Regions from separate parts of the Homo sapiens genome. Here all the other regions are linked to region 2. Evidence: fine-mapped expression QTL. A gene starts in region 2. Each other region holds a variant in brackets. All regions are shown on one strand. Distances are between the middles of the regions. Region 1 overlaps CARMIL1 (capping protein regulator and myosin 1 linker 1). Region 2 holds the start of CARMIL1 (capping protein regulator and myosin 1 linker 1). Region 3 overlaps CARMIL1 (capping protein regulator and myosin 1 linker 1).

Region 1 (8,000 bases), 27 kb before region 2:
GGCTTTCATATTTTTCTGATTGCAACCCGGAATATAGAATACTTCTTACGTCACAATTTGCTAGATGCGCTCATATAGCTACTGAAAATAAATTTCATGCAACAATACTTACCCTTACCACATGGAATGTCCTCTAACATCTACTATTCTATTTTAGTTCACCTCCTAAAAAATGCTGGCCATGATTCACTAAACTGAATTCACAACCTACTAATGGGTGATCAGCTGCAGTTTGAAAAACTTTTCTATTCAACCTATCTCTCAAGCCGCAGCTTGGATATGGTGGCCTCAGGGGCAGCCTTCCCTGACTCCCTAATTAAGTCTACATGTCCCTCCTTTATGTTCTCATGGTATATGATCCTTCTACACTTTTTTGTGGTAGGCCTGGATCTGTAGGATAGGCAAGACATCTAGGGGATCAGAGACTTGAGCACATATGCCCACACAAAAACTTGTATGCACGCTCATAAGAGCATTACTCACATAGTGAGAAGGTGGAAACAACCCACAATCTATTAGTGAAGGAATAGATTAAAAAAAGATGTGGCCCGGCGGGGTGGCTCACTCCTGTAATCCCAGCACTTTGGGAGGCAGAGGCGGGTGGATCATGAGGTCAGGAGTTTAAGACCAGCCTGGCCAAGGAGGTGAAGCCCCACCTCTACTAAAAATACAAAAATTAGCCGGGTGCGGTGGCGTGCACCTGTAATCCCAACTACTCGAGAAGCTGAGACAGGAGAATCCCTTGAACCCAGGAGACGGAGCTTGCAGTGAGCCGAGATCGTGCCATTGCATTCTAGCCTGGGCAACAGAGCAAGATTCTGTCTCCAAAAAAAAAAAAAAAAAAAAGATGTGGTATATTCATACAGTGGAATATCATTCAACCATAATAAAAGAAGAATGAAGTTCTAACCCATGCTACAACATGGAAGAACTTTGAAAATATTATGCTAAATGACATAAGCCAGACATGAAGGCCACATATTATATAATTCCATTTATATAAAATATCTAGACTAGGCCGGTCCATAGAGACAGAAAGTAGACTAGCTGTTGCCAAGGGCTGAGAAGGATAGGTGGACTGGGGATAAGTGTTAAAGGGAAGAGGTTTCTTTTTGGGGTTAAAAAAAAAAAAAGGCTCAAAATTGATTCTGGTAATAGATGCACAACTCTGTGAATATACTAATAGCCACTGAATTGTACACTTTAAACAGGTGAAATGTATGGTATGTGAATTACTTTTTTTTTTTTTTTTTTTTTTGAGAGGGACTCTTGCTCTGTTACCCAAGCTGGAGTGCAGTGGCATGATCTGAGCTCATTGCAACCTCCACCTCCCAACTTCAAGTAATTTTCAAGTGCTGGGATTACAGATGTGAGCCACCACACCCAGCCTGAATTACATCTTTAATAAAGTTGTTTTAAGAGAGAGGCTAGGTGTGATGGCTCATGCCTGTAATCTCAGCACTTTAAGAGGCCTAGGCGGGAGGATCACTTGAGCCCAGGAGTTCATGACCAGCCTGGGCAACATAGTGAGACCCTGTCTCCATTTTCAAAATAAAAATTAAAACAGAGAAAAATCTAAGGGAGACCTGGAAATTGGACTAAGTTGCAGGAGGCAGGTGCAGAATTTATTTTACTTATCCCTGGCTTCTAGCACAAGGCTCATAGGCATGGCAAAGGCTCCATAAGTATTTGTTGAATTAATAGTTGATTCTATGACAATGAGTGGATGGGCTTTCTCAGTCATGTAAAGCTTCCACCTTGGGGTACTCCCATGTTAACCATTCAAAGAAGGAAAAATGAGCTTCCTTTTTTATTAAGTGAACTTCCACCTTCACTTAAAAGATATCCAATACTCCTGATGATTATAAACTGAAGGATTTTTTAAAGTAAGAAAAATATTATGTTTCCCTGTTTCACTGTTAAAAAAAAAAATGGCCGGAACAGTGGCTCACGCCTGTAATCCCAGCACTTTGGGAGGCCAAGGCAGGTGGATCACAAGGTCAGGAGTTCGAGACCAGCCTGGCCAACAAGGTGAAACCCCATCTCTATGAAAAATACAAAAAATTAACCAGGTGTGGTGGCACGCGCCTGTAGTCCCTGCTACTCGGGAGGCTGAGGCAGGAGAATCACTTGAATCTGGGAGTCAGAGGTTGCAGTAAGCCGAGATCGTGCCACTGCACTCCAGTCTGGGTGACAAAGGGAGACTCCATCTCAAAAAAAAAAAAAAAAAAAAAATGGTTGTACAATAGTCCTTCTCACGGAACCTCACATGAAATTCTATTAATAAGAGCTTTCTCAGGCACAGTGACAAAGGGGTGTTGTTGGAAACTGTGTTGCTCAAAGTTTTATCATACTCCACAGCTGACTACAAACTGATATTTTAAGCTTAATTCCTGCACAGAAAGTTTCAGCTCAGCTATAGACAACAGCAAGCCACCAAAAGAGACAAGAAATAAGGGCTAAGAGAAACTAAAAACACAAAAGCAATGCACTGTTATGTTTGTTAATAAAAGTAGAACTTTATATCCATGTGAAATATGTAGCCTAATCTGCACACAGCCATTTTTTAGCCTAAGCATAACTGGATGGCTACCTTGTTTAAAGTCTTATCAGTGCCATTTGAATGCCAACATCCACAGCCACCTGCCGTAACAACACTTGCTTGCTATAAATAAGTAGATAACATTCTCTCCCAAGAGGTAAAAATTCTGGTTATCTATTAAAAGCAAAACCAATAACCAAAATAACCCATCTTTTAGCTATCCCTCATTTATCAAAAAAGAGGCTTACACTTCAGATTTAGATGCCTGCAGAGTGGTCCCCCAAAAAAGCAGTATCTAAACAAAATAAAGACTAACACGGCACAGAACTACTCTAACAATAGCGATTCTCTTCCCACAATATTTCAGATCCCAGTGGAAGCCTTTCCCCAATGTCTAAATACATCTCTGTTTACTTCCTACATCTAACATTTATTTTTAACAGTGGGAATACTTTTCATTCCATAACCAAGAGAAATTAACAAATAATGTCAGATCTTAACTTTAGCAAAACAAAACCTGGAAATAATTCCAATGTGCTTCTTGTAAATGGATCTCTTTTTTAAAAATAATACTTTAGAATATGTTGCACATCTAATCAATTTATCAACAAACATTTATTGAGTACAAGGTACAAAAAAGGTGGACAAAGATGGAGAACTGCAGATCAGGTCAAGGAATTTCTAATAGAGTAGGAAACACACACAGGTATCCAAACAACAGACATTCAGGAAACACGAATAATAAGTTCCATGACATAATGTAAGTATATAAAGTGCTAACAAATACAGTCTGTTCACTTTTCTAATTTAAAGTTCCAAAAGGCTGATAAATATTTGTAAACACTCTTACAAGCACAGGTATTACTGCCCAGTTTCAAAAGGACCAGGGCGACCGGGCGCGGTGGCTCACAGCTGTAATCCCAGCACTTTGGGAGACCAAGGCAGGCGGATCACCTGAGGTCAGGAGTTCGAGACCAGCCTGGCCAACATGGTGAAAACCTGTCTCTACTAAAAATACAAAAAAATTAGCCAGGCGTGGTGGCAGGCGCCTGTAAGCCAAGCTACTCCAGAGGCTGAGGCAGGAGAATCACTTGAACTGGGGAGGCAGAGGTTGCAGTGAGCCGAGATCGTGCCAGTGCATTCCAGCCCAGGCGACAAGAATGAGACTCGTCAAAAAAAAAAAAAAAAAAAGCCAAGGCACTGCAGGAAACAGGTGGTTAAACACAGAACTGCCATATGATCCAGTAATTCCACTCCTAGGTATATACTCAAAAGAACTGAAAGAAGGAACTCAGATACAGCAATGTTCAGCCATACAGTAATGTTCACAATAGTATTCACAGTAGCCAAAAAATAAAAACAATTCAAAGGTCCATTGAAGTATGAATGACTTTTTTAAAAATTGGTATATGCATACAACAGAATATTATTCAGCATTAAAAAGGAATGAACTTCTAGCACATGCTACAACATAGAGGAAACTTGAAAACATATGCTAAGTCAGCAGTCCCCAACCTTGTTGGCACCAAGGACTGGTTTCCTGGAAGACAACTTTTCAATAAAAGTGGGGGGGAGGAGAGATGGTTTCAGGATGAAAAAGTTCCACCTCAGATCATCGAGCATCAACTAGATTCTCATATGGAGCACACAGCCTACATCTCTTGAATGCACAGTTCACAACAGGGTTCTCGTAACTATGAGAATCTAATGCCACCGCTGATCTGACAGGAGGTAGAACTCAGGCGGTAATGCTCACTTACCTGCCGCTCACCTCCTGCTGTGTGACCCAGGTTCCTAAAAGGTCATGGAACAGTACCTATCCGCAGCCCTGGGGTTGGGGACCCTTCTGCTAAATGACACAAGCCAGACACAAAAGGCCACGTATTATATAATTGATTTATATAAAACATGCCAAATAGGGATATTTTCTGTTTC[T/C]ATGGAAACAGAAAGTAGATTAGTGATTGTCAGGGGCGATGGGGAGGTGGAATGAGGACTCAGTGTTTGATACAGTTTCTGTTTGGGATGAAAAAGTTCTGGAAATGGATACGTTGCATAACATTGAGAATATACTTCATGCCGCTGAACATATATTTATTAATAGTGGTTAAAATGGTAAATTTTATGTTATGTATACTTAATGGCAATTATTTTAAAATGAAAAAAAGGATATTTTTAATGTCTGAGGCATATATTGGCTTGATGAACATGTCTTCAGTGGTAGAGACAGGCACAGGCCTCACTTTCCCCACCAGGCAGCCCTTAGGCTGGTAACCTATATATCAGCTACATATTTATAAAGGATGTCAGTTCTCTCCCAGTCCCCATAAGAGAAATGTTGTATTGCTTCATTTTGTGCACCATTAGCTAGCAGGGACCACTTACAAAAAACTTCAGAAGAAGAAATTATCAATAGTTTCCGTGTGATGAAACTCACTAAAATTTAAGGGTCTAAAAGCCATGGATGAGACAACAATTCTTAGAGCCGCAGACCATATTAGAGAAGGAAGAGTGTGAATTAACTGCCTCCTCAACTTGCTATTTGTTTTATCTGCTCAGCAATATCCATGTCAGTGCAATGACAGTATTTACAGGAAAACTTTACAATTCACCTGAAAGACAAACTAAAAAACCCGTGGATTGTCTTACCTTTTGAAACCCAAAGAAAGGAGGACTCTGAAAGGAGAAAACTCTTCATGTATTATTAACTGAAATAGCCATGCCCTTTTCTCCTAAAATTCTAAAAGCTCTACTTCCCACTTACTCTCACAATATTCCTGGAAAAAGGCTTTTTCAGCCCCACACTATTAACTAAAATTGCAGACCTAAGAACCTTTTAAAGTATTAGCACTAACCCTCAGGACTCCTGATTCTCAAGTTCCTAAAATTAGAATGGCTCTTTAAATGCCCGTGTATCTGCCCCCAAAGAGACAAGCAAACAAAGTCCAATGTCTTCTGCCACCAGGACAGCAGGAAGATAATTCTTCTCACAGTTATATTCAGAAATGCCAAAATCAAACCTTGCTAAACATGTTCAGAAAAGCTTCACATATCTCTACTGGAACTAAAAAGTAACAAACCCAGCCAGCAGCCAAAGGGACAGACCTCCTAATTGGATTTTAACCTCATCAAAATGATATCATGTACTCAATCCTAGGACATAGAACCAATCCAAACAGTCACTGAGGGACTCAACTATCCTTACCAAATGCTCTGCCTCATAATAGAAGTTTTAAGTTCTTGACAGTAAAACTGTGACATTCAATAAGCTCTAGCTAATACATCATTTGATATATGAGCAGGGAACATTGTAAATTTCAGAATCTTAGACCAAAGGAAGTATTTTCCTACTTGAATGTTCTATAGCAGGTGTCCCCAACCCCTGGGCTGTGGACCAGTACCAGTCTGTGGCCTGTTAGGAACCAGACCGCACAGCAGGAGGTGAGCGGCAGGTGACCAAACATTACCACCTGAGTTCTGCCTCCTGTCAGATCAGCCAAGGCATTTGATTCTCATAGGAGCGTGAACCCTACTGTGAACTGCACATGCGAGGGAAGCAGGCTGCACACTCCTTATGAGAATCTAATGCCTGATGATCTGAGGTGGAACAGTTTATCCCAAAACCATCCCCCTACCCACTCGGTCTGTGGAAAAATTGTCTTCCACAAAACTACTCCCTGGTACCAAAAAGGTTGGGGACGGCTGTTCTATAGGACATCCTAGTTAAGAGGGCAAGCAATCTATACTTGAACTTACCCAGCTGCAAGGAATTCAATTCCCCATCCTCTATCCCCACCCTCACAATAAGCACATTCTATGAGTGGACAGCTCTGTTAGGAAGATTATTCTGCGTTTCAAGCCAATCCTCAGCACCTGTAATTTTTATCAATTGTCCCAGTTCAGAACCATAGGTAATAAATCTACGTCTTCTTTTCTGTGATGTCCCCTCCCATGTGTGAGCACAGCTCAGCACCTGTGGGGGCAGCAGGCTCATAATATAAACTGCACACAATCAACAAGTGTAAATGATTTAAGGAAACTTTCCCAACCCCATTTCACAAGACTTTTAAAGCAGAGTGATCTGAAATTACCTTAAACATTTATAATGAGGAGACTAATCTTATCTGATTTGTTCTTCTCAAGTCAAACCCAATGATGAAGTTCCCTGGACAAAGGACTTCTCTGACTTTATTCCAGTCCATTCCCAAGTCACCAGCTTCTTCCTTTAAAACTTACGTGTCCTTTACAAACAGATAGTGCTGAATGATTGTTAAATGGAATGTTTTAGTAATCTTCCTAAAAGTAGGTTGGGTGATTATGTGTTGTTCACCCGTTATTTAACATATATTTCTCCAGTTGGCTAATTTGTACAGCGTTAAAGCAGATATGGCAAATTCTAAAACAGAGTCCCTTTGTGTAAAAGATAACACACTAAAATAACTTGTCAGCTTTTCTCCAAGTTCCCTGGAACACCAGTGTCCTGTGAGATGATAATTGGCGCTTCAAGAAATGTACATGTTAAGTATATGAATACCAAAGGTTCTAAGAACAGAGAAATGGAGAAACTTGTTTAAGTTTGGAAAATGAAGGGTCAAAGTCCTTGAGCACAGAGCACTTCTCACCCAGCACACCTATTCATATCTTGGGAACAGAGTCTGTTACTTCCCCAATTGAGGAAATAGGCTTAGAGCCACACAAGGCTTCTGATCTGTATGCTAAAAAGGGTTGCTCATGGAACCAATAGGAAATGAGATGCTTTTCTTAGTTTTTTACCCAACTGTAGAGGAAATGTTAGGTGACAGTTTTACTTTTAAAAAATAATAAAATAAAATCACGCATTATAATTTTATCACATGGAAGAAATGGAGTGTCATCACTGAAAGCCTAAGAAAACGAATCTTTTCATTCAATCAGCATAAACAACTCTCACAATGGAAAAAAAAAAAAAGGAGATGCCTATAACCAGCCAAAAGTTGAAAGTACATGCAATTTCTCTCTCATCTAAATGATGAGACCAAGCCTTCGCAAACAGAAAATAAATCACTCTCTCTAAAATGACGTGCAGAAAAGGAAACAAGAGAGGCAGCTCATTTGCACTGTAATTCACATTCCTGAGACAGTGGTACAAACACTACTCAGTACCACACAGGGAGACACGACACTCTTTCTCCTCAAGCATCTGTAATCTCCTGGGTTAGTCATTGAGTGTAGTGGGAAGCAGAACTCAGATGAACTAGTCAGAGAGCACTTAATGGCTCTCCAGACTGCACTAATCATCCTGACCAAAGTAGAGTTCAGTTCAAGTGCTGAGATGGGCGGCTGTTTGCAGTTGGCCATTCTCCCTCCCTCCCAGCATCGCTGTTATTGATCCCTGCATCGTGAACAAAGCTAAATTAAAGATGGGCTATGTCAGATAAGGCTGCTGAGTAAAGAGACTGGCTGGGCCCCTGAGGAAAGCAGC
Region 2 (8,345 bases):
ATCTTGTTTGGAAAATAAGATACATATAAAAGAAAAAACAAAGAACAGCAAACAGTGAAGTTGGGCAGTATGATGAAACACTACGTTGCATGCAGAACACAACAGGAATTCATAAATTCCCTCTGCCCCTGGCTGGTTACCTCTGGTGCCCAGCAGCCTCTGGGTTCACCATAGTGTCATACAAATATTAGCATTCTCTATGAGTAAGTCTTGACATGATGTTTGGGGAATACGGCAAAACAAAACAGAACAGAACCGGGCTGGGCACGTTGGCTCACGTCTGTAATCCCAGCACTTTGGGAGGCTGAGGAAGGTGGATCGCTTGAGGCCAGGAGTTCAAGACCAGCCTGGCCAACATGGATAAACCCTGCCTCTACTAAAAATACAAAAAAAAATTAGCCAGGTGTGGTGGTGCGTGCCTGTAATCTCAGTTAGTCCAGGGGCTGAAGCACGAGAATTGCTTGAAACCGAGAGGTGGAGGTTGCAGTGGAGCTGAGATCGTGCCACTGCATTCCAGCCTGAGTGACACAGTGAGACTCTGTCTCAAAAAAATAAAAATAAGCCAGAACTATACCAGATGATTTACTCAAACAAAGGCACTCCCAGCCATCTGTCCTTCCAAAATCATGACAGCACAATACCCCCAAGAAGTGGTCAAAGGCAATAGAAGGAGAAATCTGGAGACTTCACATTTCAGATGGTGGTGGAAAAGTCTTCCTAGGGCTCCCATGAGTACCTCAAAATGAATACGTCTGAAATCAAACTCATTATCTCCTACTCTGGACACTAATGTTGCTGGAAAATGCTTATGTCCAACTCCTTTCTCTCAGACAGAAAGTCAGTCTCCTAAAATCTACCTCCTCCACGGCTCCTGACTACCTAGGCATGACTGCAGTAAGGGCCTCAGAATCTCTCACCAAGACTAAGTCCATGGCCTCTAACCCATCAGCCCACTGTCACCTCCATAACCACAGTGACTCTTCCAAAACTGTGAGATTCATCACGTCCCTCCCAGTCTACGAGTTGCAGTCATTTTTGAATAAACCCAAAACTCATGGCATGCCATTCAAGGTCTTTCACATTTATTTTCAGTGTGACTTCTCAGCACATACCTAAACATCCAATTATTCCTAATATCTTCATCTTTTACACCCCTAGGATTGTGTATCTATTATTCTCTTTCCTGGGATGCCCTTTCCCTATTGTCCTCCTGGTTATATTCTACTTATCCTCCAAAATACAGTCCCCTCCTCTATGCTCCCATACCTCTGTATTCTGTATTATAATCATTTTGGTCTATTCACATGTTCAACAAATAAATGTACATAGGAGTACCTCTTGTATGTCAGGTACTCTACTAGGTGCTAGATAGAGATGGTCTTTGCATTTCACAGGAGTTTGCAATCTAGTGGAGGTCACTGAGAGATGTCATAAAAGAAATTCACACACAATGCATAAGATCATGGATTCGGAAGCACGCAAAGGTTTCAGGGAGGAGAGGATCCCTGAGCTGAATCTTGAAGGCATAGGAAATAAGATCACTGGTTTCCAAAGTAGAGTGTACAATATAATCCATTGAGATGAAAGAAGAAAATAGAATTTTCATTTCTACTTACAATGTGTGTTTCAGTTTGTGTTTTAGATTATACACACTAAATGGAGCATGTAGTTTAACAAATATATGTTTAATAAGGGGTAATCAAAATTTTCTTCTTGGAAATACCGCCATGAAAGTTTAGAGCTGCTGAGATAAAGAGTGAAAACGGGGAGAAAAAGACAGTGTACGCATAAAGAACAGCATGGAAATCTGAGAAAGCACAGCCTGTTCAAGGAACAGCAAGGAGGTGGAATGTTTGGGGCAAGGGAACATGTAGAAGAGCTCACTGCACTATGAGTTCTTCACAAAGCTCCTATCTTATCAGAACTCGAGAAACAAGCACAGGCCACTCCTCCCTCCCCTAAAAAAGAATTGCGGGAAATGGGCATCTGAAATTGACTTAAGAACATATACACATGGAAACAGACTGGAAAATCATATACCCTTTAAAATAACTACCTCTAAGTGGTAACAGGAGTGACATATAGTCTTCTTATTCTTCTCTACATTTAAATTGTTTCTACATAAAGTCTATAACACTTTTTTTTTTTTTTTTTTTTTTTGAGATGGAGTTTCACTCTTATTGCCCAGGCTGGAATGAAATGGCTTGATCTCGGCTTACGGCAACCTCCGCCTCCCGGGTTCAAGTGATTCTCCTGCCTCAGCCTCCCGAGTAGCTGGGATTACAGCCACGTGCCCCCACGCCCAGCTAATTTTTGTATTTTTAGTAGAGACCGGGTTTCTTCATGTTGGTCAGGCTGGTCTCCAACTCCCGACCTCAGGTGATCCACCTGCCTCGGCCTCCCAAAGTGCTAGGATTACAGGGGTGAGCCACCACGCTCAGCCAAGTCTGTAACACTTTTTAAATATCTTGAGGGAATCTTAAGGGAATATATAGAGGTTTTCATGTGGTCGGTCGCCATTTTGAATTGATCAGAGCAGAACTCTTGTGAGCACTTGAATTTAGAGGAAAGCAGGTGCAGGTATTTATTCTATCCCAGCCTAACTTGACCACTGAAAGGCCCAGAAAAATCATATCGGGCATAATATGTCACTCTCTTGAAAGAGATAGGCAATACTTAATAAAAACAAAAATTCCATTTCAAGATAAAGGTCAAACTCAACTTTTAAAATATACAAACTATTCCTTTTGAGAACCATGAATAGAAACCCAGACACCTTATTTCCACTCTACCCTTCACTCTTTCTCTTGGGCCTAAGTAATTACCTACACTTTCCATTTCCAGACTTAAGGACAACTCCTTATATAAAGTAAAAATCTGCCACCCACTTTAGCCATCCTTATCCCCTGACCAGCCAGGCAAGCCCTGCCCTACACTCATTCTCAGGACCTCTGGAGGCGTCTTCAGAGCCTCTGGCGTTTGCTTGGGGTGTTGGAAAGGTCGCAGCCTCCCAGAACCGGATGTGTCACTCACTCCAGCAAAAGATGCAGACTCCACAGGGTTGGGGAGAGAGAAGAGGATCTGCTGGGATCATGATGAGAGGTGCGTGTGTGTGTGTGTGTGTGTGTGTGTGTGTGTGCGCGCGCGCACACGCGCGTGCGTCTGTGAATAATTTCATACTGTAAATTCTGGTAAAAGATCAGGTTTGTCTGTAATTCAGCAGAAGTAGGGGCTTCCATACAAACCTAGCAACAGCCTCTCTACATCAAGTTTTACCTGCTGAGTTAACAGTCACCAACGGAAGGGCATACACAAATTCCTCCAAAGTATTATTAGCTAAAAGAAACAACAGAGGGGCAAATTCCACACATGGAGATCAACGGGTGCTCAGAACTTCCTCTTGTTGTCAGCGCCGATTAAACATCATCTTTGTGAGCTGTAGGCTGTGTAGTGTGCCAAGAATGGTACAGGAGGGAATATAGGTCACTAGGGCTCAAAACACATCTGTACACAGACGCACATACCTTGTTACAGTATAACATGCTACACACATATACATGCTTAAACGCTAGGTTTTCAGAACACTCTCCCATCCTATTTCAGCTCTGCCATTTTAACCCTCCAGATAATTAAGTTAAACCCCAAGACTTAACCAGCCCCGCCCCCACCACCACCAAAAAAAAAAAAACCTCAAGGTACTCAAACAATGGGTCACCTTGCACAGCGTAACACACACGGGTTCCCTAAGAGATCCCCTATAGGGAGAATCGGTAGGTTAATCATTATTAAAATAAGGCTTTTATCATTAACCCTCTATTTCCTGGCCTGAGTCTGCGTCAGCCCTGTAACCCTTTCGCTCCCAGCTGGCTACACCAAGCCACACCTTGCCAAGCCCAGTCATTTTACCAGACTAGCGCCCACTCCCCCAAGTCTGCGTGTCAGAAGATCACCTCCCGCGGGGCATTTTCAGGAAAGCGCCTGACACGTGCCGGAGACGACCTACTGTGCGCTCGCCACCTGTCCTTCCAATAGGCTTTCCCGGACTTTCCCGAGTTTGGGGCAGTGGGCTGGGAGCTGTAAAGGGCTCCCCTCGCTTGCAGAACTCCCAAGTCTAAGATGGCCCGCCCCCTTCTTTCGCCAACCTGGATCCCCGCTTCCGGGCAAGAGGAGGTGCCCAGGGCTCACAGTCGAGACCCTCCTCCCACCCACCTCCCGAGGACTCCCGATTCCTCCCCGAAGCCTTCCCTCTCTGCACTTGGCTCTACAGGCGGTCGGATGGGAACAAACTTCCCGGCACCCCCAGTGACCCTGCCCAACACCACTCTGCCCTAAGGGGCGCCAAGACTTCTCGAGACCTGCGGGAAAGCAGAGGTGGGAAGGGAGAGAGAGGTGAGGAGTACGCAGAGGAAGGTGGAAAACCAACAACCGCGTGAATCTTACCTATCAACTCCCTGGGAACGTCAGAGCTCTCCTCGGTCATGGTTGCCCTGTAGGTGTGGGGGTTATTGCAGGTCCAACTCTGATTTATGGCCCCCTGCCCTTCCCCGAACTCCTCAATTTTTTTAGAGAGGCAGATGCAGCTTGCAAATGGAAGTGGGCAAGAAAAGGGGGGGCGGAGACAGAATTTTGCCGCGCGCCCCCCGCCCCACCAAAAAAAAAAAAAAGAGTTGCAAATGCGAGGCGGATTTGCTGCTGCTGCTACATGACGCCTCCTCGCAGTTCCCGGCGGCTGAATAAGGAGCGGACCGGATTACAAGCGGGCGCGGGGCGCGGGGCGGCTGTGGCGCCTGCTCCTCCTCCCGGCTCGCTGGTCCCCGGCGGGGCTTGGGCCGGCGTAGCTCCCGCCCAGCCTCCGCGCCGCACCTACAGCCCTAGGTGAAAGCGGAAGGCGTGGGAGAGGGCGGGGAGAGCGGCGCGGGGCGGGGGGAGTAGGTTTTCCTCGCGCTCCTGCCGGGCTCCGGCTGGGCGGGGGCAGCTCCGGCCCTCCTCCTTCTCCTCCTTCTCCTTCTCCTCTTCCTCCTGCGTTTCCTCCTCACCTCGCGAGAGCCGGCCTCCGCACCGGTGCGAGGCCGGCCTCCGGTGCCCGAGCGCTGGGTCCCCGGCGTAGGTCGCACCCCCAGGAGAGACGCTGTGCGGTGCTGCGGTGGCGGCGGCGGGCACCGCGCCCCTCCTCGCAGCCTCCCTCCCAAACCGCAAAAGCCCTGCGTCTGGAGAGGGGGCGAGCGGGCTCGCGAGAGAGCCCGGGAGCCATCTGCTGGCTGCGAGGGAGGAGAGCCGGGTGAGCCGGGCTTTCCATTTCCTTGTCCCCACTCCGGGCGGGCCAGGGGACCCAGAAGACGGGAGACGGCAGATTCTGCAGACCCGTCTACACGGAAGCTGGTTCTTTTTGGGACCCTCTTACGCACTTTTTCTTTTTCAACCCTCCCGGTGACATGTCACTTCATCATCGCTATTCTTCATTTCTGATGAGCTAGACGAAACCTGTGAACACTAATCATACCGTGAGAAGACACTTGTGTGTGTGCGTTCAGCTGGTGCTCTGCAGCCGCAGTTCGCTATCTCAGACATTCCCGTTGAGAGCGCCTTGGAAAATGCCTTTCACTCGGAAAAGTCTCTTTTATCCTCGGGGCATATTCAGGAAGCTGAGCTTTAATCACTGGAGCCTATGTAAGCCTGCGGATAGGTCTGATCCTACCTGGGCCCAAACTCCCTATGACTTCCCTGAGCTCCATCCCCAGAGGTTCAACTTCAGGGCCAAGAATACTTTGTGCCTCAATCGCTGCTTTTTAGCCTAGGGCTGGGAATGTCCCAGACTGTCTAATCAGGTTCTGCTTTTAAAGGACAGAAAAGGAGGAAAGGAAAGGGAATCCATGCACTTGGCAATCTAATTTTAAACACTGCTGTTGACCTTGGACCCCTTAGAATCATCTTCAGCCCCACAGCCAGGCCTTACCACTAAGGATTTGCCAACCTGGCCCCTTCCCACCCTCCTTAACCTCTCCCACTCCCTTCTCTATTACAACCAGACTCACTGTTTGCTTCCTCCTTCCTCTTAAGGTTATCTGATTCTTATCTATGTTTTCAAACCCATCCCAATGGTCTACCTTCTTTGTGAATATTTTCCAGGGATTTTCAGATTACTGTGATCCCTAAGCCTCTACAATATGTATTGCCTGAAACACTTTTCTAAACCCAACCATATGGTGTCGTGTTTCATTGCTTGTGTATTTGTCTGGTTTTACTATCTAACTCTTGCATTGTCCCCTGAGTTTGGATTTTTTCTGCCCAACTAGACTGTAGGTGAGTTGAAAGTGGGAATTTATCTTAGACTTTTGAACTTCTTCAACAGCCTAGTTCAAAATAGGTGTTCAATAAACATTTGTTAACTGATTTTAGAGCTTTGGACCTCAGGCCTCCAACCATTTGTTTCAAAAGTGGGCAATTTCTTTAAGCTAGACATTTCCTTAATGCATTAAATATATTTTTTCTGCAGTAAATGGAAATTAACATCTCAAACTGTCTTTCATTCAACCTGGTGTGTTAAAGAGGACTTTTCTGGCACATACCAATGAAGTTTCAGAAATGCCCTGAAGTTTCCAAACCATGTGATAACTTGTGAAAATAAGAACAAAAGTTTGTCTTTTTTTTTTTTTTCCTGTGGCCTGGGTGATGGAAAGAATAAAGGGAAGGCTGTATGGCAGTTCTGTAATTCAGTACTCTTTGGCTTCTTTTAAAGGAAGCTGGGGTTTCAATAAAAGAATCATTTTCACTGCAACAGGATCCTGATTGGCTCCTGCATCTCTGAAGAAGTGAATTCAAATGAATCTCCTATCACAACACTGAAAAATGACTGACTGATTTTGGAAATCAAAGTCATTTACTTCTCGGTTGCAAAACTCAAATATGTTTCAGAATAGCAAGCAGAGAACTCCAAGGAGCACTGTTTATAAAGCTGCAAACCCAACAAGCAGTAAACATCCCTAGCACCGTAAAACCATGGTGCCAGCTTGGAGAATGCAGTTTGCATTCTGAAATGTGTGCTTGTTTACTGAATCGGCCTGCCCCTTCTACTGCTACTGCTGCAAAAACAAACTTTTCTCACTCCATCACTCCAACTTCCTCAAATTCATCCCTGTTTATATAGTCTTGAATACACGAGTGATCAAACCACTACATGAAACTGATTGTGTTACATATGTGATTAGCCATAGCTTCATCTAAGTAAGTATTTACATGTGGCTGTGTTTAAGCCATACAACTAGTACTGATAATCTGAAAGCTGTTAGTAAGATAAAACTTTTTCAGAGAATCCCTACTGCATTTGAATCTGTAAAATGTTTAACATTTAACATATAGTGAGTGGCAACATTATTTTGAAAAGGAAGATGGAGAAGAGTGTAATTTGAAAAGCATGGCAAGGCCAGGTGCAGTGGCTCACATTTGTAATTCCAAATGCTTTGGGATGCCGAAGTGGGTGGATTGCTTGAGCCCAGGAGTTTGGGACAGACCAGACTGAGCAACATAGTGAAACCCCATCTCTTTTGAAACATACAGTGAGTGGCAACATTATTTTGAAAACTTATCCATGGATTTTTATTTTTAATTCTAAGCATATATTCACATCTATATAGTACATTTTGTAATGCATTATGGTCAGAAAACACTCTGAGTAAAAAAGTTTGCAGAAAATAGTGTCCCTAAAATGACACAACATGCTATCATTAGAACCATATCATGTAATGATTAAACCCATGGAGATAAAGCAAACAAAAAAGTTAAGAAGAAATCAGCACTCTAACAAAAAAAAAAATCACAAACTTACGTAGGTCAGTTTCTGATCTCGTCTACTGCATTAAGAACTGGTTTTAAAATGGAAAGGTATTCAGAAATGTGGGAACCACCAGCATTTTACTCCCCAAGTAATGATTTTAAGATTACCTTCCACCCCCAGTAACCATTGGGGAAGGGGCCTTCTTAAGAAGGTGTATTTTTCAACTTGGTTAATAAAGATCTTTCAGGAGGGTAGGCAATGTGAACTAAGCTTGCAAACACCTCTAAGAAAACTTAGTTTATCTCTGACTAGAAGACGGTGGAAGGTAAATGGCTATTAAACAATACTCCTTTAAAGTATTTACAAATGAAATTATATGAGACCTGAGATTTGCTTGAAAATAGCCCATAGGGATGGTGGGGGGTGGAGAGTATTGAGTAGAGATATAGATGAAATCAGAGTGACCTTGTGTTGATTTTTGTTGCAGCTGGATATCAGATCCATGGGAAGGCATTGCTTTCACTTTTGTATGTGTTTGCAATGTTTCATAACAATAATAAAACAGAACGAATCC
Region 3 (8,000 bases), 47 kb before region 2:
CCTGCCTCAGCCTGAGAAAGTGCTAGGATTACAGGCATGAGCCACCACACCCAGCCCCTCACTGTCTTCTAAACCAAAAATGATTTTCTAACTTGGTTGAAACCTTCCTGGTCTCCCAGCCTCCAGTTCTGCCACACTGTAATCCAGTTACCAAGCTGCAATCAAAATGGAAATCTGATCATCTCTCCCCTTCTTCCCTGGCTCCCCAAAATCTTCATCAAAGCCTTCCATATCTTAGCCCTTCCTGCATCATCTCTGTTCCTTAAATTGAACTTCACACTTTAAATCCCTCTCCCTCTTGTCATCACTACCTGGCCAGCTCATCCGGGCCTTAAGGCTCAACTCAGTCATCACCATGGAGCATCCCTCTAGCCCTGCACTGGGCCAACGCCAGTCTATAATCGCACAGTACCATGGGCACACCTCTTACCACACCGTACTGTTCAAGTCTGCATGTTCTGTCTTATTTATCTTCCTGCCTCTGGTAGCAGCATAAAGCCTGACACATCATGAGCATTCAATGTTTACTGAACTAACTCCAGAATGAAACTCTCTTCTACTTGCCCTCAACTCCCTACCTTCAATTTCCTGACCTACAACAGTGTCCTCAATGTGTTCTTTTAACAATGAATGTCTGACGCTGAATAGGATCAAGTGCTTTGCACAAGTTCATCATTAAACAACTCATATCAGAGACTAATGATAATGAGCTGATGCCCAGACTGGGAACTAAAACTTCGCAAATAACTTCTCATATGCTGAATCCCCTGAACAACTCTGGAGGACAGATATCCCTGTTATCTTTTCATTGTTTTCTTCAACCCTATCTTTCAAAACACACATACAACAAGAGCTGAGATACTTTGAGTATCTTTGAAAAATTTTGTCTGAAGCAAGAAGAAATCTGCATTTAGGTATCACTGATGAGGTAATCAGAATTCTTGTTTGACTTCTCCAAAAGATCCCTGATGCATTCAATTTACATATGTGCTTCCTCTCAGCCATATCCTGGTCTGAATACCAGCAATGTCACTTACTAGACAGACTTTGCTCATGTGCTTTTACAAGATAATACAAACTTCTGAATGTGTCATGTCCTGATCATTTAGGCTAAGGATCAATGAACTCAAATGTATAAGGAGGCCAAAGTAGCTTTGTCAAAGAGCAAAGCCGGCTCTGTGGAAAAAACGACAGCCTTGAGGACAATGACAAATTGCAGTCAACATGGGCATCACGGCCAATGAGAAACACTAGGGTGCTTTCGGGATGGCAGAAAGCTGAAAAGAGCTTGCCACTGCTAAAAGAAAGAGCCTGGTCACAACCCAGCTCTTCCGATTCCTGCTAAGCACAAACATAGACCTAGTGTTCCCAGATCCAACTTTCTTTTTTTTAAAGGTGGGGGAGGATGGAATCTAGATTTATGGCTGATATCTCCCAATTTATAAATATTGGGAACCAACATCAATTTTTTAAATACTGCGTATTTAAAGCACAGTAGAGCAGGCTGCAAGCCACCAGCCTGTGACATCTGGCTTTACGCCTAAGTTGCTCATTATCATTTTAAATGGCCCACTGATTCTTATAAACTTTTGTCTTCTCCAACATGACAGAAAGATCTTTTGTGACTGGAAATACATATGACCCTCCTAAGACTGGCACCCATTGTAGAACCCAAGATTTGATGTCCTGGACTCAGGAATAGATGGATTAAAGCATCCATGTTAATTAACATGAAGTTTTGTCTAGCTCACCAATCCAGGAGATTTTTTTCCCCTCTCATTGCATTTTTTTTAAATTTTTAATTATTATGACTACATAATAGTTATATATATTCCTCATATCTCAATTTAATTACCACAATCACTGTTTTTACAAGGTCCCAGGCAAGAAGAGGTGAGGCAAATGGAGGCTCTGAGGAAAGTGGCTCCAAAGCCTACATGATGGAAGATAACTCTGGAAGAGAAAGAGATGACGTTCCTAAGCTTGTATAGCAAAACTTGAGAGAAGGTAACGAAGATGTGACATCTGAACTCAGAGAAATATAACTTCTATAGAAAAGAAACAAGGCCTTGCAGCTCTATAAGGAACAGTAAATAAATCAAGTATGCACACAAGAAGTAAAAAAATATATCCAAGTAGAAAGGAAGCTTTTCATGAAATGTCCACAGAGCTCATGCTCTGTAGTGACTGTAATGCAAGATTCAAGGCTCTATCTAGAAAACTCCTAGCCAGTCTTGACGGACCAAGCCCTACACTGAGCATGTACAGAGTCTTCCTGTTCCATGCAGTACTTGCTAACAAAACTAATTTAAATGCCTTACCATGACTCGATCTCCTTTAAAGTACCTCATTAGTCCTTGATATCCCTTTGCTGTATCTCTGGCTTGCCTTGCCACTGCTCTGTGAGTCCCCACAACTCCTCCTCCACACATACTCTTCCCCCAAGAGCTTGGCACAGAATAAAGATCCATTTTAGATCTGGATTTAAATAGTTTTCTTTACTAGCTCATTTCCTTATCTACTAATGAGGGAAATACCACCTACGTCAGAGTGGGAATTAAATGAAATAATAAACCTAAAGACCCCAGCTCAATGGTTCAAACATAAATAATGCCAAATATTCATTCCTCTCCCCATGCCCATATCCTCTCACCAAGCCCCAATGTTCTATAGCTTATGACCCAAAACGCTAAAAGTAGAACATTCTAATATTGAGCATATTAACAGAAGCTTGAAGAGATATGCAAGTTATAAATCTGTTTTTGTTCTTCCTCACCAATATAAATTTGCTAAGTGACAGATTAAGACAGTCAATTCCAAGAAGTTGGATTCAATAACATGACATGAGGCACAAAGTAGCCCATATCAATAGCCAGGAATGATTTTATTGCAGCTTGTTATGCTAGTTGCCAGGAATTTTTTTTTAATCTTGAATGTTGCTTTAAATATAGTAATAAAAGAAAATATGACCGGCTGTTGAAGCCCATATGCTACTCCTTTTCAGGACTACAAAATGCTCATTCAGACTTTGTTTGTGCACAGCAAATAGTAGCCGGAGGGGAGCCAGTGAAATCAATGAAAACTTACTGTTTGGAAAACTAGCAAATAGAAAATTGGGGCTGTGTTTCTCTGGTTTCTTCTAATCTAAAACCTGTGATGGAAATCAAGTTGATTCTTGACTTTTTATTTCAATTTCACTGACAGTCCAAATAGAATGCCTAGTGATCTCTATGCTACAAATCTCCGCTTCATCATACAAATTAAGCACAGTTGATCACTCTGTTCCTGAAATATTTCCCCATGAAACCAGTTTCCTGGTTTTCTTCTCTTCTCTCCCTGGCCGTTCTTTCTGTTCTTTTGCTGGCTCTTGCTCCTGTGAATGTCAAGAGTTCCTTCCAGCTTGGTCCTTTGCCC[G/A]CTCTTGCACCCTCTCTCCTTGCTATCTCTCTCCTTGGTGATATCACACCTATTTCAATTGCTTTAAATACTCCCTGTACACTGGCAAGTCCCAAATTCCTTTCTGGAAACTGTATCTTTCTGCTGAGCTGTATTTGAAACTACATCTTCCCTCTGGACTGTACGCTCATTTTGCCATCAACAGCCAACATCTTCACTTGGACATTTCATGAACACTCCAAACGCAATGTGTTCAAAAGTTATGTCCTTTTGCTACCCCCACCAGTCTCCCTCATCACAATAAACAAGGTCCTTATCAGGTTGCAGTGAGCCAAGATCATGCCACTGCACTCCAGCCTGGGTGACAGTGGGATTCCGTCTTGAAACATTAATAATAATAATAATATTTCTGATTTCTCCTTTTTCCTCAGCTCCCATATACAAAAGTCCTATCATCCCTACCTTCAAAACATACACCAGAATCCATCTACTGCTTACCATCTCCTCCAGCAATCCCTAGACCAGTGGTTCTCAAACTTTTCTGTATATCAGATCATCCAAAGGACTTGTTAAAGCAGATTGCTGAGTCCCACCTCCAGGTTCTGAATCAGCAAGTCCATAATAAGACTTGAAGTATGCATTTCTTACAGGTTTCCAGGTCATTCTGATAGGGCTGATCCTGAGACCACACATTGAGAAGCACTGCCCTAGACCAAGCCTGACCTCTCACTCCCACTACTGTTAACAGTGTAATGCTCTACTTAGAAGCCTCAGTAATCATTTTAAACATATCAGATTATGTTATTTCCCCAGTAAAATCAAATCCAAGCTCCTTACTGACCAGTATATGTAATCCAGCATGACTTCTTGGATATCCCGATGCTCTTGCCTCATGGTTCTTTAGCTCTCCACTAAAACCACACACTTCCTCAGGGCCTTTGCACAATATATTGAATCTGCCTGGAAACCCCTTTCCCTCACTCTTCAAATGGCTGGCACTATTTTCCTTCAGGCCTCATCTTAAATGTTATTTTCTCAAAAATGTCTCATCTAGGCCGAGCGCAGTGGCTCACGCCTGTAATCCCAGCATTTTGGGAGGCTGAGGTGGGCGGATCACGAGGTCAGGAAATCGACACCATCCTGGCCAACACGGTGAAACTCCGTCTCTACTAAAATACAAAAAATTAGCCGGGCGAGCTGGTGCGCGCCTGTAGTCCCAACTGCTAGGGAGGCTGAGGCAGGGGAATTGCTTGAACCCAGGAGGTGGGGATTGCAGTGAGCTGAGATTGCGCCACTGCACTAAAGCCTGGCGACAGAGCAAGACTCTGTCTCAAAAAAAAAAGTCTCATCTGACTATCCTACACAGCTCCCCACCCCACTCCAAATTCCCTATCACTATACTGTTTTCAATAAGTTTTAGCCCTTACCATAATTAGTGTGGAAGTGTATGCATATGTTTGTCTCTTGCTGCCTAGCAAGACTAATCAAGCCATATCTGTTACATCTGCTGTATCTTCAGCACACTGTCTGCTACACGCTACATGCTGAATCACTTTTTGTTGTATAAATGGATGGATAAATTAATGAATAAATAATGAACTTTTCAGTAAAGGCAAAAACTTCTGATTTCTAGCTAACATAATTTTTTAAACTTCTAAGATTGTTCGAATAATTCCCTTTAAGCCAAGCAAATTATCTTCCAAACAAGTCAAAACAGTACCATATGAAAACTGTAGGGGAAAAAATGCTACTGAACACAAATCATTTCCACAAAAACAGACCCACAGCAAAACCCTAAAATCTGCAAGCAAATTGTCTTTTCCAGTATTTTTTAAAGATAGTTAAATATCAGCCTTCACACCAGATGACACTTTTACAAATATTCCCAGATTAAGCAGCTCATGGTATGTGACAATATGTCAACACCCTTTCATAGAATATACACTTCTGCCTCACATAATGGCACGTATTCAAGTTTCAATGAATTCTCTACCACACGAATATAGAAAACTCATCTCAGGGCACAGCTCAACAAATGAGAAAACGGCCTTTAATCTACCACCCATCAACATCTGAGGTCTAAGCAAGAATCCTTTAGTTTCCAGAAGTAAGTTTTATATAGAACTTTCTATTTTCCCACTAATATTCATCACACTAGAACTAATGTTGCCACATAGGAAAGCAAGCTCCAAAGCAGATGAAGGGGAGACCACTGAGAAAGCTCAGGACCTAAGAGGCTCTGCATGGCTTGGCCCCTGGTCACCCTCAGCCCCACCTCCCTATCCTAGCTCTTCCACTTCTGCCCAGTGGTCCTCTTAGGGTTCACTTCCTTGACCCACCCAAGCACACTTCCACATTAGGGTCTACATTCACACCTGTGCCCTCACCTGGAACACCTTCTCCCTCACTTCAGCCCTCTACTAAACACCCCCCCTTCCCTGACATATTATCTCCAACAGCACCCATCACCCTACTCCATCTCCTATCCTCCCAGCTCTTATGACTACCATATACTTTATCAGATATTTATTTTCCATCTCCCCAAAGCTTAGGGATTTGCTTTGCTTGTTGCTTTACTCCCAACACTGAGAAAGTGCTTAGCTCACAGTAAGCACTCAAATATTTTGTTACATAAATGAAGGACAAGTTACATTCAGCCCAATATGAGAGGAAAAGCCATGAAACTGAACAACATTCTTAGGATTGCTGTGCCAGGCTTAAGCATTCTGTAAAAATTTGCTGCTATTTCCTGACATCAGGAATTTGCTTCTCTTTTTCTTCTGATCAGGGTGTTTAATATCTAAGAGAGCTTTGCTCCTATAATCCCTCTATGAATAGGCATTCATGTTTAAGGCAAAAAAAAAAAAAAAACTTGTTGAATCTTGAGATGTCACATTCTTCAACATAATTACTGCTTTGCACTGTGAACTCTGACACCATTCAGGGCCTCCCCAGCTCTGTAAGTGAAGTGACTGCAGCAGTGTCCCTCCAGGGACATGCCCAAGTCTCCTCTCCACGCCTAGCATGGGATTTGCTACCCTCTGTGGCAGCAGCAGACAGGAGAAGGTGTTCCTACAGGTCTGTTCCTTTGTGGGGCATTAAACAGGGTTAACTCCCACAATTCATGATTACCTGGAGTATTATCTGAGCCATGGGCTCCCAGATGGAGGATCTAGACTTGGGATGCCAACCAGAACAGGCTTGTCCTCTATCTCTTTTCTCTGTGCCTTTTTGCCTTCTGCCATAACAGTCAATTACCACAACTGATCACTGCTCTTCCATCCTTATTTTATGAGCTAGAAAATCAAAACACCCTAAATCCTAAATTATCTTTAATCTCTTATAATTTGATGGTTTACATGTGAAAACTATAGTTGAAAGGGAAAAAAATGAAACAAAACAAATGAGCAAACTGTGCTTTGCACAGTGGGGAATGTGAAGATGATGAATGGAACAGTCCCAACTTCCAAAGGTTTACAATCTAGTGACTATCCATAAAATAAGCTGTCATGTTACTTTACTGGATAAAGTAACCAGGAACCATAGAAACCATACATCTATGATTTTCAGAAATATTTGCAACCATTTATAAATTCTTTAAGGACAGCTTTAACTAAGATAAATAACCAAGCTTTTTATGCTGGAGTGCAGTGGTGTGATCATAGCTCATGGCAGCCTCAAACTCCTGGGCTCAAGCAATCCTCCCGCCTCAGCCTCCCGAGTAGCTGGGACTATAGGCATGTGCCACCACACCTGGCTAATTCTGGGGGGTTTTTTGCCTTTTTTTTTTTTTTTTTTTTGTAGAGACAGGGTCTCGCTCTGTTGCCTAGGCTGGTCTCGAATTCCTGGTTTCAAGCCACCCTCCTACCTTGGCCTCCCAAAGTGCTGGGATTACAGGCGTGAGCCACTGTGCCAGGCCTTTAGTTCACATTGTTTTACTTGTTCCTTCTCCTTCTCACTGAGAATATTCTTTTCTACCAATACTTTTCCAGATGCTGCACCAGGTCAGGCACACAAGATAAAAGTCACTAAAAAGTAAAAACCCCACCTACCAAGCAGATTTTTGTGTCTGTGCGTCTATTAGAATTTGAGAACTACCTAGAGAGCAGGCTACTGAGAGAGAAACCTTCCAAATGAATCTGGAATTACTTGGGATATCTGCAAAACAACCAAGAATAGGGAGGAAAGGGTGCGCCTGGAAAAAATGAATTAATCCAACCATCACAATTCTAGCCCTCCTCTGAGTCTTCCCTAATACAAATGGACCATAAATCATCATGCTGCCTTTGAAGCTAAATGGAGCAACCTAGACACAAAGAGATCATGCCTCAGACTGTGCGGAATGCCACTCTGTTAAAAGATGAGATCCTGGCTTCACACTTGAATCAGTCCTGTGAAAACTGTGTGAATATTGAGAAGGAGGGGCAAAGAAATATAAAAAATGGAGCTTACAGGGTAACAGTAAGCTACCTGCACATCACAGAAATTCTGCTCTTTAGAGAGCTTCAGTCCAAGACTATCAACCCAGTAACTCCTCTGATCCAATCCTAGTTGGGCTGAAGAATGTACCACTGCAGTGTAGCATTTTTCAGGTGGTCATAATGTGG

Evidence for each region. PIP is the estimated chance that this variant, and not a neighbour inherited with it, causes the effect.
Region 1: its variant is fine-mapped to the expression of CARMIL1 in tibial nerve (GTEx, PIP above 0.99).
Region 3: its variant is fine-mapped to the expression of CARMIL1 in tibial nerve (GTEx, PIP 0.99).

Annotation. Positions count from the first base shown.
Region 1 is chr6:25,302,613-25,310,612 of GRCh38, reverse strand. The region is part of intron 2 of CARMIL1 (capping protein regulator and myosin 1 linker 1); the gene reads right to left. Among named protein-coding and RNA genes, the nearest start is that of CARMIL1, 27 kb to the right of the region's middle. The variant T/C (reference allele first, on the strand shown) is at 4,478.
Region 2 is chr6:25,275,931-25,284,275 of GRCh38, reverse strand. It overlaps CARMIL1 (capping protein regulator and myosin 1 linker 1), which reads right to left and starts at 4,902. Exons shown (of 37, transcript NM_017640.6): 1 at 4,441-4,902. The coding sequence starts at 4,480. RefSeq lists a silencer at 4,705-5,174.
Region 3 is chr6:25,322,614-25,330,613 of GRCh38, reverse strand. All of the region lies in intron 2 of CARMIL1 (capping protein regulator and myosin 1 linker 1), which reads right to left. It overlaps LOC124901281 (a long non-coding RNA gene), which reads left to right. Exons shown (of 3, transcript XR_007059512.1): 3 at 1,877-2,908. Among named protein-coding and RNA genes, the nearest start is that of CARMIL1, 47 kb to the right of the region's middle. The variant G/A (reference allele first, on the strand shown) is at 3,415.